4 linked regions of the Homo sapiens genome follow. The protein of the gene in region 1 interacts with the protein of each later gene in a pairwise test. Each region holds a gene or a part of one and is shown in the gene's direction. Other genes may lie near its edges.

Region 1 (4,767 bases):
TCATGTGTTCAGCTATCTGGAAGCTCTTGAACCCAGTCCTTTGGGTTTTTATGGAGGCTTCATTACATAGGCATGGTTGATTAAACCATCAGCCACTGGTGATCAACTTAACCTTCAGCCCCTCTTACCTCCCCAGAGGTTGTGGGGTGGGTATGGGCTGAAGGTCCCAACCCTGTAATCATGCCTTGGTCTGTCTGGTGACCAGCCCCTATACTGAAGCTAACTAGGGGCTGCCAGCCATCAGTCAATCATTAACATATAAGAACACATCACTTTGGCGAGTCTAGGATATTAGGAGTTGTATGCGGGAGATGGGGTTGAAGACCAAATATATGTTTCACAATATCACAGTATAGAACTTTAATTTTACTTATTATTTTCCCCTCCCACATGTATTTCATTACTAATAACATCAATGTGGTGATGTCCATAGGATACTGTAGTTTTAAGGGTCTTGGTTGGAAAGAAGAAATACCTACATGGTTTTGCCATATTGTTTTCTGAAAAAAATTCCAAGTAGTGAGGGTGGAGAGAATCTTTCCACTTCTCTCACAGTAGACTTCAGTCACTATTTCTTATCGCAGGTTGCACTGTTTTACCTTTAGAAGGGAAAGAAATTTCAAATAGCTTCTTCCTTAGGCCTTCAGTGACATGATTTTCTTTTGTAATTCTAACACTTTTTATCATTAAAAATATTTTTTTCAGTTTTTGAGGAAAGCGGGTACATCTATCTTTTAAGAATATACTGCCCCCCGAATAATGAGATTATTCAGCCTTTCACTATGGTGTTTTCTTTTAAGATTGGCAGCTCCAAGGTGAGAATGCCTAAGATGGAAACTTGGCTCTACCCTTATTAGCCGTATGATTGTGAGAAAGTTAATTTCTATAAGCCTCTATTTTGTTCCTGTATGCAGGGACACATACAGTATTTATTTCATAGAGCTGTTGGGAGGATTAAATTAGATAAGGGACTTTTTCTTTTCTTTTTTTTTGAGACAGAGTCTCACTCTTGTTGCCCAGGCTGGAGTGCAGTGACATGATTTCGGCTCACTGCAATCTCTGCCTCCCAGGTTCAAGCAATTCTCCTGCCTCAGGATCCAGAGTAGCTGGGATTACAGGTGCCCGACACTATGCCCCACTAATTTTTTTGTAGTTTTAGTAGAGATGGAGTTTCACTATGTTGGCCAGGCTAGTCTCGAACTCCTGACCTCAGGTGATCCGCCTGCCTCGGCCTCCCAAAGTGCTGGGATTACAGGCATGAGCCACTGTGCCTGGCCTTAGATAATGCACATTTAAATCCCTATGTCAGGGGCTGGGCACCATGGCTCACACCTGTAATCTCAGCACTTTGGGAGGCAAAGGTGGGCCAATTGCTTGATCCCAGGAATTCAAGACCAGCCTGGGCAACCTGGCAAAACTCCGTCTCAACAAAACATTTAAAAAATTAGCCTGGCATGGTGGCATGTGCCTGTACTTGGGAGGCTTAGGTGGGAGGATCACTGGAGCCCGGGAAGTCGAGGTTGCAGTGAGCCATGATTGCACAACTGCACTCCAGCCTGGCTGACAGAGCAAGACCCTGTCTCAAAAAATAAAAATTAAAAAAATAAAGTCATTTGTCGAATTGGATGCTTTTAGTCACAACTCAAAATGGGCTCATCAGTAAAGGAATTCGCTGGCACATAACTGAAAAACAGGTAAGACTTGACTTAGTAGCTCACTGATCTCATCAAGGACAAGTTTTTCCCCTGTTTCCTGTTTTTGCCTCCATGGTGTTGGCTCTATCTTAAGGCAGGCTCTCCTCATTGCAGGATGGCTGCCTGCTGTTTCTATGTGTAAGGCTGATACTTCTGTGTTCATACCCAGATGCACAGAGAGAGGGCTGGAGGAGTGACTTTGTTCCAGAATTTCTAACAAAATTCTGAGATCCACTCTATATTCGATCAACTTATGCAAATGTCCATTTCCAACCAATAACTGTGGCGGGGTTATAGTGCACTGACTGACTTAGCTTAGACCACATGCCTTGGTGCCAAGCTTCCCTGGCACCTTCTAGATCGTTAAATGGAAACAAGCTGTTGGAAAGAAGAGATGGGGACCTGGATGCTGGAGAGGCAAGTAGCAGTGCCTGGTACAAAGTAAGGACACTATTTTTAAATTGTGATTATTAAGGAGACACTATTTATTGACGATCCACAGTATGCGAAGCACTGCACACATGGTGTCATATTTAACCCTCACAACTTTAAAAGGTAGATATTGTTGTATCCTTTAATAGAGGAGGAAACTGAGGCTCAGGAAGAGACATGTGCCCAAATTCAGGAAAGCTAACGTGTGGCAGACCTGAGATTCAAATTGAAGTCTTTTCTCAAATGTTTGCCCTAAGGATTTATTTTTTGGTGCTGAGAAAATGTGTGAACCAGGGAAATTAACAAGAGGATTTGGTGGGAGTGAAGAGGGCAAATGAGATTTGCAAGTGACAGGAGGCTTTCCACTTCTTTAACAGATCATGACAACTGGCCCAAGGGAGCAGGGGACCTTTCTGTTGTCAAAAAGATGAAGGAGACCTTTAAGGAGAAAGCTAAGCTCTGAGCTGAGGAAACAAGGTGTCCTCCATCCCCCAGTGCCTTCACATCTTGAGGATATGCTTCTGTACTTTTTAAAAGCTTATAGTTGGTATGGAAAACATTTTTCTTATTTTTAAGTGTTATTAATTATATCTATGGAAAAACTATTCCTGAAATATATACAGTCTTATGTCCCAATCAGAGTCTTTTAACCTATGATTTAAAAATGTATAAGTAACAGAAATTAACATATTTTAATGACTTTACTTTTTATTTCTAAGAAAAGTATTTGAAAAATGGAATAATTTTAAATCAATGATAATTCTAGGGATCATGAACTCCCAGAAGATTTTATTATTTAATTGTAAAGGTAGAGGCCAGACGCAGTGGCTCACGCCTGTAATTCCAGCACTTTGGGAGGCCGAGGTAGGCGGGTCAGTTGAGGTCAGGAGTTCAAGACCAGGCTGGCCAACATGGTAAAACCCTGTCTCTACTGAAAAACAACAAAAACAAAAACACAAATTAGTCGGGTGTGGTGGCACACACCTGTAGTCCCAGGTACTTGGGAGGCTGAGGCAGGAGGATCGCTTGAACCCAGGAAGCAGAGGTTGCAGTGAGCTGAGATCATGCTACTGCAGTCCAGCCTGGGCTACAGAGTGAGACTGCATCTCAAAAAAAACCCAAAAAACAAAAACAAACAACAACAACAAAATTATAAAGGTAGAAAATAAACCTAAATTGTGTCGTAATTAAGATTATTAAAATTAGAATTATACAATGACTTATTTTTGGTGGCAAATACTTTAGGAGCAATAATGCCTTATGGTAATTATTGATGTATAGTTTCTTTTGTTTATGAAGTCAAATTTGTATAAATTCTCTTAATTCAAAGAAAAAGTTTTATGTGATTTATTTTTGGCAGTGCCTGATTTGTGTCTTGATTTTCTGTCCAAAGTATTCCCTTTTTTCCATGTATCTCCTTTTGTAGGCAAAAACAAAATTTCAGTTGCATGCAAATGTATTAGGGTTCCATATTCTGCCTTCCGTGGCTCCAGTCTGATAGTTAGACCCTTATTGAAGAAATGCCTTTAGCAGATTGAATATGTTCATTCTTTGTCTTAATCAAAGTTCTTTCAAGTATCTGAGGTGAAGTAGCTATTTTCTTTTTTTTATCATTAACACTCACTTTATTTATTTATTTATTTATTTATTTTTAAGATGGAGTCTCACTCTGTCACCCAGGCTGGAGTGCAGTAGCATAATCTCGGCTCACCACAACCTCCACCTCCTGGGTTCAAGTGATTCTGCTGCTTCAGCCTCCTGCGTAGCTGGGATGACAGGTGTGCACCACCACGCCCGGCCAATTTTTGTATTTTTAGTAGAGATGGTGTTTCACCATATTGGCCAGGCTGGTCTTGATCTCCTGACCTTAAGTGATCTGCCCGCTTTGGCCTCCCAAATTGCTGGGATTACAGGTGAGAGCCACCACGCCCGGCCTGTCATTTACCCTCATTTTAAAGTGTGTGAGTTACCAAGCTCTGGGGTTTGGGACCCAGAATCTGCAGCTTTCTCATGCTCCCAAGCAGGGCTAGCACGAGGGAGAGGCTAATGAGGTGCCCAGGGTGCAGCATTTAAGGAGCTATTCTCCATTGTCAGGTTTGTGCCAGTGCAGAATTGCCCCTGAGAGTGAGTGTGTCCTTCAATTTTGTGCTCATACTAATAATGTGGGAAGATCAGAAAGCTTCATTTTCCTCCCAGATAGCCCTTTAACAGTGGCCTTCTGGAACTGATAATATCATAACAACTGAGAATTACAAACCATGTTAGAGGGAAAAGTGGCCCTAATACAGGTTGGTGGAGAAGATGGAAAAGGCAGGGCTTGCTTTCACATGACCTGTGTTAATGACTGCCATCGACTCCTTAAATCTCCATAGCGTTGCCAGTTATTTCTGCTTAAGGGACAGAACCTGCCTATGTAGCACTAAACTTAGGTACAACTGCTTATTAGAGCTTCTTCTTAGACTATCACTGGACAGCTGGTCATTATCTATATTTTTAGAATTATGAATTTATTATCCAGGACTCTTATGTACATCATAATAGTATCCTGTCAATAATGTACTTTTGCAACTACGCTTAGTAAATTTTGTTGTAGAGTGACTGTTCTTGAATAGGCTTAATAATTTGGAGCACCTACTATGTA
Region 2 (3,110 bases), on another chromosome or scaffold:
TGGTGGGGCACATGGAGTGCCCTGGGAAGGATAATGCTGCACGCCCTTTCCCCGAGTGCCTGCAGCAATGTAGTGTGAGGATGCTGGGCCTTTGGGGTTCCTTAACACTTCAGGCTGGTCAGAGAGGCATGTGGCACTTTCAAGGCTCCAGGGGCACGATTTGGGTAAAAGGCTTTGTGATGCTGCCACATAAGTACTGATGTTGCACTCCATGGAGGCAGTGTGATACAGTGATGAAGGGTCCAGGGGCTCTGGATGGGCATCTTTCCTATGCCACCTATTAGTCCCATGTCCTTGGACAGGCTAGTTAACTATCCTCTGCCTCATTTTCCACGTCTTTGAAATGGGGCTAATGCATCCTATTTCTGGGTGTTGTGAGGGCTGGGTGTGACGTTGCCTGTAAAGCACTTACCCCCATACCCTGCACTTGGAAAAGGAAGGTCATGGCTGCATTATAGCCATCATCACCATTTCTTTTCACGAAGAGACTTCTTAGGAGTTCCAGGAGGAGATGGGTGTGAATTCCACAAACATTTATTGAGCATGTAGGTAGGTGTTAGGAACTCCTAAAAGTCACTGCCCCGCCTGTCCAGGGAACAAGGACTAGGGAACAGCCTGTTGCTCAGAAGTGGTCATGCAGATACAGTGCTAGGAGCTCAGTGGAGTTCTCAGCCTCTTCCAGCCAGGGGACATGGGGAAGGCTCTCTGGAGGCAGGAGTATCTGAGCAGAAACTTGAAGGGTGGAGAGGTTTGGAATGTTTGGAGAGGGTAGGGATGGGAGTTAGGGAGTGTGAGTCCTGCTGTAACACAGGTGTCCCCAGCTTCACCCTCCTTCCTTCCCTGGCAGGCGAGGCTGTGAGTGTGGTGGGCTTTGGCGTCTTTGGCCAGTCTTGCGGGCCCTCGGTGACCTCAGGCATCCTTTCGGCTGTGGTGCAGGTGAATGGCACGCCCGTAATGCTGCAGACCACGTGTGCTGTGCACAGCGGCTCCAGTGGGGGACCCCTCTTCTCCAACCACTCAGGAAACCTCCTTGGTAACCAGCTCTTTGGCCCCCTCCCGCCCTCCCACTTGCCAGAACCTCAGTCCCACCCCATGAGTGCTTGTGGCCAGCCCCAGTGCACCCTCTGTCTGGGAAAATGGTGGGCATTATGAGTGAGCTAGCGAAGGTTTGCAGGCTGTTCTCCTGATGGTGGAGAGGGACGGATGCTGGACTGGGAGGAAAGAGATCTGGGCTCTGGTCCCTTCTCTGCTACTAATCTAATCTGGTTTGATCTGTGAAATTGAGGAGTTGGATTAGTCAAAGCGTCACAGACTCAAAAGCCAACAGAGGCTGGAAAGATAAAGCAAATGAATGAGAAGACAACAGGGAGGGGAGGGGAGGGGTCTAAACTGAAGCGCACTCGACTCAGCTGCTGCAGACTGTGGCCATGAAGGAGGATGGGCCTAACGTTGGCTGGTATTCTAATATTTTCACAAGACATGTAAAGCTTTTTTAAAAAAATACATGTGGCCGTTAAATCGATCAATTTTTAAATTTTGGTAACATTCAGGTTTTTAAAAAACAGTCTGTTTAGCTGTCAAAAAGAAAAAAACATGAGTTCATCTAGAAACCTCCAACTCCAGTCCAGTCTAACTCTCCTTGTTTCTTCTTTCTCCTGTAGTGAAAAACCTTGCTCTTGTTGTCTACAATATGTTTACTTATCTGTTCCATCCTAGTATACAAGTAAAATTGTATTTGCATAACTTTAGTATATTTCCTCTAAATATTTAGTACTTACAAAGAGGAAATATTGGAGCCGTAAGTAATATTTAGAGCCATAAGTCTAGGCCTGGTGTGGTAGCTCGTGCCAGTAATCCCAACACTTCCGGAGGCTGAGGCAAGAGGATCACTTGAAATGGGAGTTCGAGACCAGCCTGGGCAACATAGTGAGACTCTGCCTCTATTTTTATTTAAAAAAATTTTTTTTAATTAAAAAAAAAGAAAGGAAAATACTAAGTCTACCTTGGAGAGGCCTGGCAGATACCACCTCAGCCAAGTGATCAAGGTGAACGTCAGAAGTACTCCATACAGACATCAGATAGCTGAGACACTGGGAAGGACACATGGCTTTTATGGTATTCTTCCCAATAATGTGTAACCTTAAACAATTAAAAGTAATGGCAAAACAATTAAAAGTAATGACAAAAACCGCATTCATTTTTGCACCAACCCAATAGTCATGAGAAAACATTAGGTAGGCCTCAATTGAGGGTCATTCTCTAAAATCACTGACCTGAGCCAGACATGGTGGTATGTGCCTGTAGTCCTGGCTCTGCAGGAATCTGAAGTGGGAAGATCACTTGAGCCCAGGAGTTCAAGGCTGCAGTGAACTATGGTCACCATTACACTTTAGCCTGTGTGACAGAGCGAGACCCATCTCAAAAAAATAAACAGTGTTTATTTAAAAAAAAAAAAAAAAAAGCCAGGTATGGTGGCTCGCACTTGTAATTCTAGCACTTTTGGAGGCCAGGGCGGGAGGATTGCTTGAGTCTGGGAGTTCAAGACCAAGCTGGACAACCATAGTGAGGCCCCATCTCTACAAAATATTTTAGGGAGGCTGAGGCGGGAGAATCACTTGAGCCCAGGAGGTTGAGGTTGCAGTGAGCTATAATCCCACCACTGCACTCTAGCATGGGTGACAGAGCGAGACCTTGCCTCTAAAAAAACAAAAACAAGAACAAAAAAAAAAACTGTAAATAAATAAAATAACCTGCACTTTTAAAAATGTCAAGGCCACGAAAGATAAGGAAAGACTGAGGAACTGACCCAGATTGGAGGAGATTTGGGAGATGCGACAACTAAATGGAATATGGAGTCCTAGACTGGATATTGGAACTGAAAAAGGACATTAGTGGAAAAACTAGTGCAACTCATGTCAATGAGTTCTGTAGTTCACTTAATAACAGTATTCTACCAAGGTATATGTTTTGGTTTTGATAAATATTTTTTGGTGACATTAGATACGAACATAAAGGAAAGCTGGTCAAAGGGTATATAGAATTCTGCAATATTTAGGCAAGACTTCTGTATGTCTGAAATTATCTTTAAAAAACTACACACACATCCATGC
Region 3 (3,400 bases), on another chromosome or scaffold:
GGTCCCAAGAGAGCCAGGCCACGGTTGCCAGGGCTGGCCCTGCTCTGTGAAGGCCCCAGGGCTCGAGGATTTTCTACCAGGTCACTCTGCTGTGTTTGGCCTCCGTTCCCAAAGTCACCTCATGATCCAGGAGGGCTGCTGCAGCCCTCACATCATGTCCCAGGCTGTAGGATGGAGGAAGTAGAAGGGAAGGGGCAAAAGGTATGTGCCTTCTTTTAAGGAAGGTTCCAGAAGCCGCCATATTGAATACTTACAGTTATATCTCATTGGCCACAACTTAGTCTCATGCTCACACCTCATCACAAGGCCACCTGGGAAGCGTAATCTCTACTCTGGGTGGCCATATGCCCTGTTGCCACTTCTAGCCCTGGGCCGCTGGGGAAGGCAGCATGGGCGAGAAGACAGGAAGGGCCGCTTCTGCCGCAGCGCCCCGACCTAATGGAGCAGCCGGCTCACCTGCTCGTTCAAGCAGCCCACTCGAGCCTTGCCAAAGTGCTGACACGGGGCAGTGACAGGAGGCCCAACCCCTGTGGGTGACAAGCCCCCGGTCTGGGGAGAGCACTCAGGCCGCTCTGGAGCTCTGTGCCAAGGAACTGTATGGGTGCCCTGGGGCTGCCATAAACCGCAGGGATGGATTGTCTCCTAGATCCAGCAGTCCGAGATCCAGGTGCCAGCAGGGTGGGCTCCTTCCGGGTGCCATGACAGAAGGATGTGTTCCAGGCCTCTGTCCTCGGCTCGCAGATGGTCCACTTCTCCCTGTATATCTTCACCTCATGTTCCCCTGTGCATGTCTTCTGCCCACACACCCCCTTTTTATGAGGACACAGTCATATTGAATTAGGGTCCACTCTGATGACCTCATCTTAGTGTGATCACCTCTGCGAAGGCCCTGTCTCCAAATAAGGTCACACTGAAGTGTTGGGGCTTGGACTCCACCGTATCTCTTCTGGGGGAAGGCACGATTCCAGTCCCCACTCCTCCATGATTAATGCCTGTCAGACAGACAAGGACGCAGAGGCACAGGGGCCCTGTCGTCACAGCTAGCTCATTCCCGCAGCTCCCCCAGCTCCCCGGCTGGCCCCCGGGTCTGGGTGCTGGTGGAACTGAGCCAAGACCATTGCCCCCGCCTAGGTTGGGAGGCTATGTGTGACTGGAAGGACGTCCTGTCGGGTGGCGAGAAGCAGAGAATCGGCATGGCCCGCATGTTCTACCACAGGTGAGCACTCCGGGCCGGCAGGCTCCCTGGGGTCCCCTGGAAGGGGAAGTAGCAGCTGTGGGGAGGCCTGGGCTCAGTGGAGCCTGAGCCGGGCTGGGGTGTTGGGCCCTGGAGGGTGCACAGACTCTCCTCTCGGCCCGGACCCCCAGGCCCAAGTACGCCCTCCTGGATGAATGCACCAGCGCCGTGAGCATCGACGTGGAAGGCAAGATCTTCCAGGCGGCCAAGGACGCGGGCATTGCCCTGCTCTCCATCACCCACCGGCCCTCCCTGTGGTAGGTGCCCTGTCTCCCTGCCTGGGGTCGGTGGGAGTGGCTGCCTGAGGGGAGGAGGTGGCCTGGCGGGCCCGGCAGCAGCAGGCGGCTGTCATCAGCAGCCCCCGTGCCGTGCCCCTGACCCTGTCCCTCTCCTGGCCAGGAAATACCACACACACTTGCTACAGTTCGATGGGGAGGGCGGCTGGAAGTTCGAGAAGCTGGACTCAGCTGCCCGCCTGAGCCTGACGGAGGAGAAGCAGCGGCTGGAGCAGCAGCTGGCGGGCATTCCCAAGATGCAGCGGCGCCTCCAGGAGCTCTGCCAGATCCTGGGCGAGGCCGTGGCCCCAGCGCATGTGCCGGCACCTAGCCCGCAAGGCCCTGGTGGCCTCCAGGGTGCCTCCACCTGACACAACCGTCCCCGGCCCCTGCCCCGCCCCCAAGCTCGGATCACATGAAGGAGACAGCAGCACCCACCCATGCACGCACCCCGCCCCTGCATGCCTGGCCCCTCCTCCTAGAAAACCCTTCCCGCCCTCGGGAAAGTAGATGTGGAGGGTGGCGCCCTGCGTAACCCTCGCCCTGTCCCTCCCACTCCCTGGGGGCGCTGTTCCACAGTGACTGGGCCCTGTCCAGGGCAGTGAGTCCTCTACTTTGCTCCGTGGAGGAAGCTGGGGTACAAGGGGCCCAGTGCTGGCCACACAGCAGCGCAGCCGAGCCCCAGGAGCCCGTCAGGCCACAGCCCCTGGCACTGCAGGTGGCCTCCCTCCAGAGACTCGAGTCCCCATGATTCCCTCCTCGTCAGTCTCTCAAAGACCCCATGGTCCATCCCCTGAGGGTGGTCAGCCAAGGCTCCCGTTCCGTGGGATGCCATAAAAGCCGCCCAGTGGGACCCACAGTCACACAGAGCGCCTCACCTGCATCCTCTCCCCCACAAGAGCCCCAAAGATCCCACGGGAGAGGGGAGAGGGACGCACAGCACTGCCTGCCAAGCGAGAATGCAGGCCCCGCCCCCTCGGCCCCTCACCACCTCTTTCTACAGCCTAATTTATTGGATTCCCTATTCGTAGCCATCTCCGTGGCCAATGTGACTACCGTGCCAGCAGCGGGGGCGGCCCAGCCTCTGAGTCCCGTGGGGCCCCGGCTCCCACCGGTGCCAAACCCAGCCCCTGCGGCCGTCACCCCGCCAGCCTACACTGCCAGCCGCCACCGGGGCACACGGGCCTCTGCTTGCCAGCCAGGAGTGCGGACACCATGTTCCCAGCTCAGTGCCAAAGAGGGGTCACCAGGGGGAGCTGTCTGCGGAGCCAGCGCCTGCCCGAGAGAGACCCCACCGCCACCGTGTGCCTTTCCCGGGCCCTCAGCCCTCGGGCCGGGCACCACCCCCAGTCCCCCCAGTAAAAGCCTCCACTGGCAAATGCAGTCCTTCCTCCCTGCCTCAGAGCCTGGTGGTGTCTGCTGTGGGTCTCGAGGAGAGATGGAGGAGAGGGAGTGGGTTGCCTGTGGGGGAAAGAGTGAGTTTGGGAAAGGAGTGGGCCTGACCCCCAAGCCCCTCCGAGGGGGAAAGTCACCAGAAGACATGGTCCAGCATGCCCTCCGCCGAGCCTCACGCCAATGCTCTTAGGATTCCTGTGACGGTGGCGGGGCGGAACCTGCAACAACATTGCACAGAAATACTGGCTGAGCCCAAATAGGACTAGGGGAGGGGATCATGCTGGTCCCTGTGGGAGGAGCACGAAGGCAAGAGAAGGGATGTCTAAGCTGCCACACAGGGTGCTGCTGGCCCTTCTAGGGAGAGGCGGCCACTTGTGCAGGGGCCTGGGGGGAACTGGGAGCACAGCGCAGGGTGTTCGTGCTGCATGCAGGGGAAGGGAGGGCAGGGGAAGGGAGGGCTGCGGCCGGCGGGCCTTGGAGGCCACACTACAGAGAC
Region 4 (4,226 bases), on another chromosome or scaffold:
GCCGACATCGCGACACAGTACTCCAGCCTGAGCGACAGAGCGAGGCTGTGTCTCAAAAATAAATAAATAATAAATTAAAAAAATAAGAGTATCTATAACCTGGTCCCAGCCTGAATTTCCTTTTTCACCCCAACACGTAGCCCTAGTTACATTCTTCTGACGTCTGTAAACAAGCCCAGCCCTTCCTGTTGTGAAGCCAAGTTCAGGTGGTTCCTCTTCGCCTGACTGTTTTCCCATTCCACTTACCGGAAGCCTAGTCATCCTTCGGAGGGCTGTACGGGGGTTGCAAGAAGCAACGGAAACGGTTCAGCACCTGCTACCTTCCATCATATTCTTTTCAATAAAGGGGCAACTCCCGCCAATGGCAGTGTAGATTTCCTAACCTCTACACATGGAAGATTCACACCATTCAGGATTGTTGTTTAACTGTTGAGAGAGCACTTGATACTTAACAGCTTACTAGGCTACAAGACAGCGCAGGAAAGAATCCTCTGTTGTCCTTTTATGTTATCCTGAACAGTTGGTTCACAGAGTTACTGTAAACACACAAAACATGACTGCCAGGGCTTAGTAGTGAGGAAGGTGGGAACTAGTCCTGACTCAGTTAACTGTGCCCAGGAGAAGCTGCTTAACCTCAAAGGATTTCACTATTACTAGAATCAATAATACCAACCCTAGGGGTAAAAATAAAGATAAATGTGTGCAAATCCTGCCTGCAGTCTCGGGCACGTCGTGGGTGTCCAAGAACTGTTCTTAGGCAGCCGGTGGGGACAAAGTCTGTGTGCCTCCTGTCCTGGAATAGGTCCCAAGGTCGGCTTACTTGCAAAGCAAGGGTACGGCGCAAGAGTACTGAATACGGGTTGGAAGGGCGCTGGCTCTACCCTCAGCTCATAGGCCGGCTGGGCGGCGCTGACCAGCAGCTAGGCCCCGTCTTCCCTAGGAACGGCCACGGGGGCCCTGGGAGGGTATGAATGTCTTTTTGCAGTGAGGCCTCTGGACCCCGCGGCCCCCCGGCAGCGCAACCAAAACTCAGGGGCAGGCGCCGCAGCCGCCTAGTGCAGCCAGATCCCCGCCGGCACCCTCAGGGGCGGAGCCGGAGGCAGGGCCTTCGGGCCGTACCAACTCCACGGGGGCAGGGGCCGCCTCCCTTCGGCCGCGCGCCACTCAAGTACGGCAGACAGGCAGCGAGGTTGCCGAGGCCGAGGCTAGCCTGCAGCCTCCTTTCTCCCGTGCCCTGGGCGCGGGGTGTACGGCAAGCGCGGGCGGGCGGGACAGGCACGCAGGGCACCCCCGGGGTTGGGCGCGGCGGGCGCGGGGCGGGGCCCGCGGGGGGGGGGGGCGGGGCGGCGGTGCCCTTGCGGCGCAGCTGGGGTCGCGGCCCTGCTCCCCGCGCTTTCTTAAGGCCCGCGGGCGGCGCAGGAGCGGCACTCGTGGCTGTGGTGGCTTCGGCAGCGGCTTCAGCAGATCGGCGGCATCAGCGGTAGCACCAGCACTAGCAGCATGTTGAGCCGGGCAGTGTGCGGGTGAGAAGAAAGGGGACCCGGTCACGGCCCCAAGGGCGAAGGGGCTCGCGGCGGGCAGGGCCTCCGCGGCAATGGCGACAGTGGCCGCACCGGGCCTGGCGGGACCGGGGCACCTGCAGGCGGTTCTCCCGGGAGTGCCCGGCGCGGCGGCTGGAGCGGGGATCCGCAGGGAGGGGACGCGGGGACTCGGGGGACGCCGCGCGCTGCCGTTCCTCGGCAGCCCAGCCTGCGTAGACGGTCCCGCGGCGCTGACTGACCGGGCTGTGCTTTCTCGTCTTCAGCACCAGCAGGCAGCTGGCTCCGGTTTTGGGGTATCTGGGCTCCAGGCAGAAGCACAGCCTCCCCGACCTGCCCTACGACTACGGCGCCCTGGAACCTCACATCAACGCGCAGATCATGCAGCTGCACCACAGCAAGCACCACGCGGCCTACGTGAACAACCTGAACGTCACCGAGGAGAAGTACCAGGAGGCGTTGGCCAAGGGTAGGTTCCAGGCTGAGCGGCGGGAGGCAGTCCCCGGCAGAGGCGACCCCAGGGAGCCAGGCCCCATACGGACGGGCCTCTCCGTGGAGGAGAACTCGCTTCGTATTTGTACCGGTTCCGAGTTTTCCAGGCACGATAGTCTCTCTTTTAAACACATGGTCTACCTCATTGTAGAAGGAGTGCCTCGATGGGTTTGAACACACTTCTGTCATCTCAGGGAACTTGGGGTCCTGCGAAGGAGCTTGCCTTACTGTTGTGAGCCACATTCCGTTACACATATTGCCAGCACTGGTGAATTGTAGGGCCTGAAAAGAAAGCTCTACTGTGTCACTCGTTTTTTTTGCAAATTGAAATTGTTCTTGTTGTATAATGTGCTTTGGGGAAATGTTTGGTCTCTCAGGTAGGTGTGCCAGCCGTTTGCAGGAGGGCTGAGAGCGCCTGTCCACTGGTGGCCAGACATCATCGGGTCCGCAGGTGTCTCTGAGTGTCAGGGTCACCTCCTGATAGAAGTGGGAGTGGTGTCTTACTGCCAGGTCACACTGAAGGTGGGAGACAGGAGGACACTACTCCGTGCTAGGAACCATGGTCCTTGTCATCTTCCTGAGAGCAAACGGGGTCGGGACTCCAGCCTAGGACTTGGAGACTCCCTGCATCCCCAGCTACCCTGCAGGTGAAACTTCACTGAGCCCACTTGACTTCAGGTGGGAGAGGAGGAGGCACACCGTTGTGGTGTGCGTTACCAAAAAAGCAGTAACCTAACTGTGGAACAGTTCAGGATCTTTAGACTTGATACTTTTCTTGATTTCCCTTAGGGGTCAAAGTTCACAAGGAAAATAGCCCTTTAGTGGGAAACTGAAACAGGCTTGTTTTTATTTACTATTTACTCATATTTGTAATGCAATTAAAATATATGTTGTTAACTTTTTTTTTTTTTCTCAAGAGCTCGGTTGATAAAACCAGGGGTATGTGGACTTTTTGAGTCTGTGCCTTTTGGGGGTGTGTATGGGAATGTTATGTTTTAACGTTTTTTACAAAATAGTATTGTCTTTTTAATTTATTCGTTAGTGGTTTGCACAAGGAAGATAATCGATAGTCATGTTTTTTAGACTCTCTGTATTGCTTGGTAAGCTACGTAGTAAAAAATGTTTACTTTTCCTTAAATGTTTTGAATTTCGGGGTTATGAAATTTGTTGAGTAATTTTTAGACAGTCACATCTTGTTGACTGGAGGCATCTAGTGGAAAAATGCAGTATTTCAGCCTGATTGTGTTTGAAGTAAATGATTAAAAGAGGAGGAAGTTACCACATTCTGGAAGATTTACTTGAGACAGACGAACCTTGAATTACGGGAAAAGGCCCCGTGATTTAGGAAATAACAAATTTGGGAAACATGTAATGGGGAGAGACTGGGGAATACCCCAGTTGTGAAAGTACTTCCTGTAAGGCAACATCTGACACCAGGAACCTTTCTCTTCAGTATTTTAAAAACAACTTAATTTCAGTCCTTTACTTGTGGAATCAGAGCCTTACTTATGTAATACAACCCACTGGAAAAAAGCTTTTTATTGTATTGTACTATATTGTTTATAAGTGATTGAGTACCTGCAGAGCTTTCTTTTACTTAAACATATTTTAAAAATTATTAAAAAGATTTTCATGTTTGAAAACTTGGGGAAAAAAGATAAAACAATGTCATAATCTCATCACATTTAACTGACTAATATGAATATTTTTCAACAAAAAGCATTTGACTTTTATTATTATTTGAGGCAAAAACTAAACTGAAACCAAATAAAATGTTGAATTTCAGAAAAGTGTTCTTAAAAGCAGATATTAAGCCCTCAATTTTTATTAATTTTAAAATGAGTAAGCAAACTGTAAGATGTTAAGATTATTAAATTATCTCTCATTAAGCATGTATCTTTCCCATTTTAAAAATTCAGTTACTATTGATTTATTAAAAAACAATAGAAAAGTTACATCTATTTTTAGAGTGACTCTCAAGAAAATTTAATAAGGGAAACACAGATCTATAAAAAACTGTTTGTAAACCTAACAAAGGAAAAAAAAAGTTGGTGTCTTTAAAAAACCCTTTGAGATTAGCTGTGTATTCAGATATCAGTTGGTTCTCTCCTTTCTGAATCGCTAAACAACTGGAGCTTGTTTCAGAAAGCAGCATTGTCTACGTATGTTCCTTTTAAAAATTTTTTTTTTAATTCT

Evidence for each region. Proteins that work in one complex are often made in the same cells at the same time.
Region 2: the proteins of PECR (region 1) and TYSND1 come close enough for resonance energy transfer, tested with the Homo sapiens proteins (one large-scale study listed by BioGRID).
Region 3: the proteins of PECR (region 1) and ABCD1 come close enough for resonance energy transfer, tested with the Homo sapiens proteins (one large-scale study listed by BioGRID).
Region 4: the proteins of PECR (region 1) and SOD2 come close enough for resonance energy transfer, tested with the Homo sapiens proteins (one large-scale study listed by BioGRID).

The regions. Positions count from the first base shown.
Region 1 is NC_000002.12:216,037,097-216,041,863, reverse strand, and holds the end of PECR (peroxisomal trans-2-enoyl-CoA reductase), read left to right. Parts: intron 1-2,503; coding exon 2,504-2,589; 3' UTR 2,590-3,476; downstream 3,477-4,767. UniProt on the Homo sapiens protein: Participates in chain elongation of fatty acids. Catalyzes the reduction of trans-2-enoyl-CoAs of varying chain lengths from 6:1 to 16:1, having maximum activity with 10:1 CoA. Has no 2,4-dienoyl-CoA reductase activity.
Region 2 is NC_000010.11:70,140,591-70,143,700, reverse strand, and holds part of TYSND1 (peroxisomal leader peptide-processing protease), read left to right. Parts: intron 1-847; coding exon 848-1,033; intron 1,034-3,110. UniProt on the Homo sapiens protein: Peroxisomal protease that mediates both the removal of the leader peptide from proteins containing a PTS2 target sequence and processes several PTS1-containing proteins.
Region 3 is NC_000023.11:153,741,856-153,745,255, forward strand, and holds the end of ABCD1 (ATP-binding cassette sub-family D member 1), read left to right. Parts: intron 1-1,131; coding exon 1,132-1,216; intron 1,217-1,365; coding exon 1,366-1,491; intron 1,492-1,633; coding exon 1,634-1,880; 3' UTR 1,881-2,900; downstream 2,901-3,400. UniProt on the Homo sapiens protein: ATP-dependent transporter of the ATP-binding cassette (ABC) family involved in the transport of very long chain fatty acid (VLCFA)-CoA from the cytosol to the peroxisome lumen.
Region 4 is NC_000006.12:159,690,442-159,694,667, reverse strand, and holds the start of SOD2 (superoxide dismutase [Mn], mitochondrial isoform A precursor), read left to right. Parts: upstream 1-1,426; 5' UTR 1,427-1,500; coding exon 1,501-1,523; intron 1,524-1,804; coding exon 1,805-2,007; coding exon of another isoform or gene 2,008-2,204; exon of another isoform or gene 2,205-3,749; intron 3,750-4,226. UniProt on the Homo sapiens protein: Destroys superoxide anion radicals which are normally produced within the cells and which are toxic to biological systems.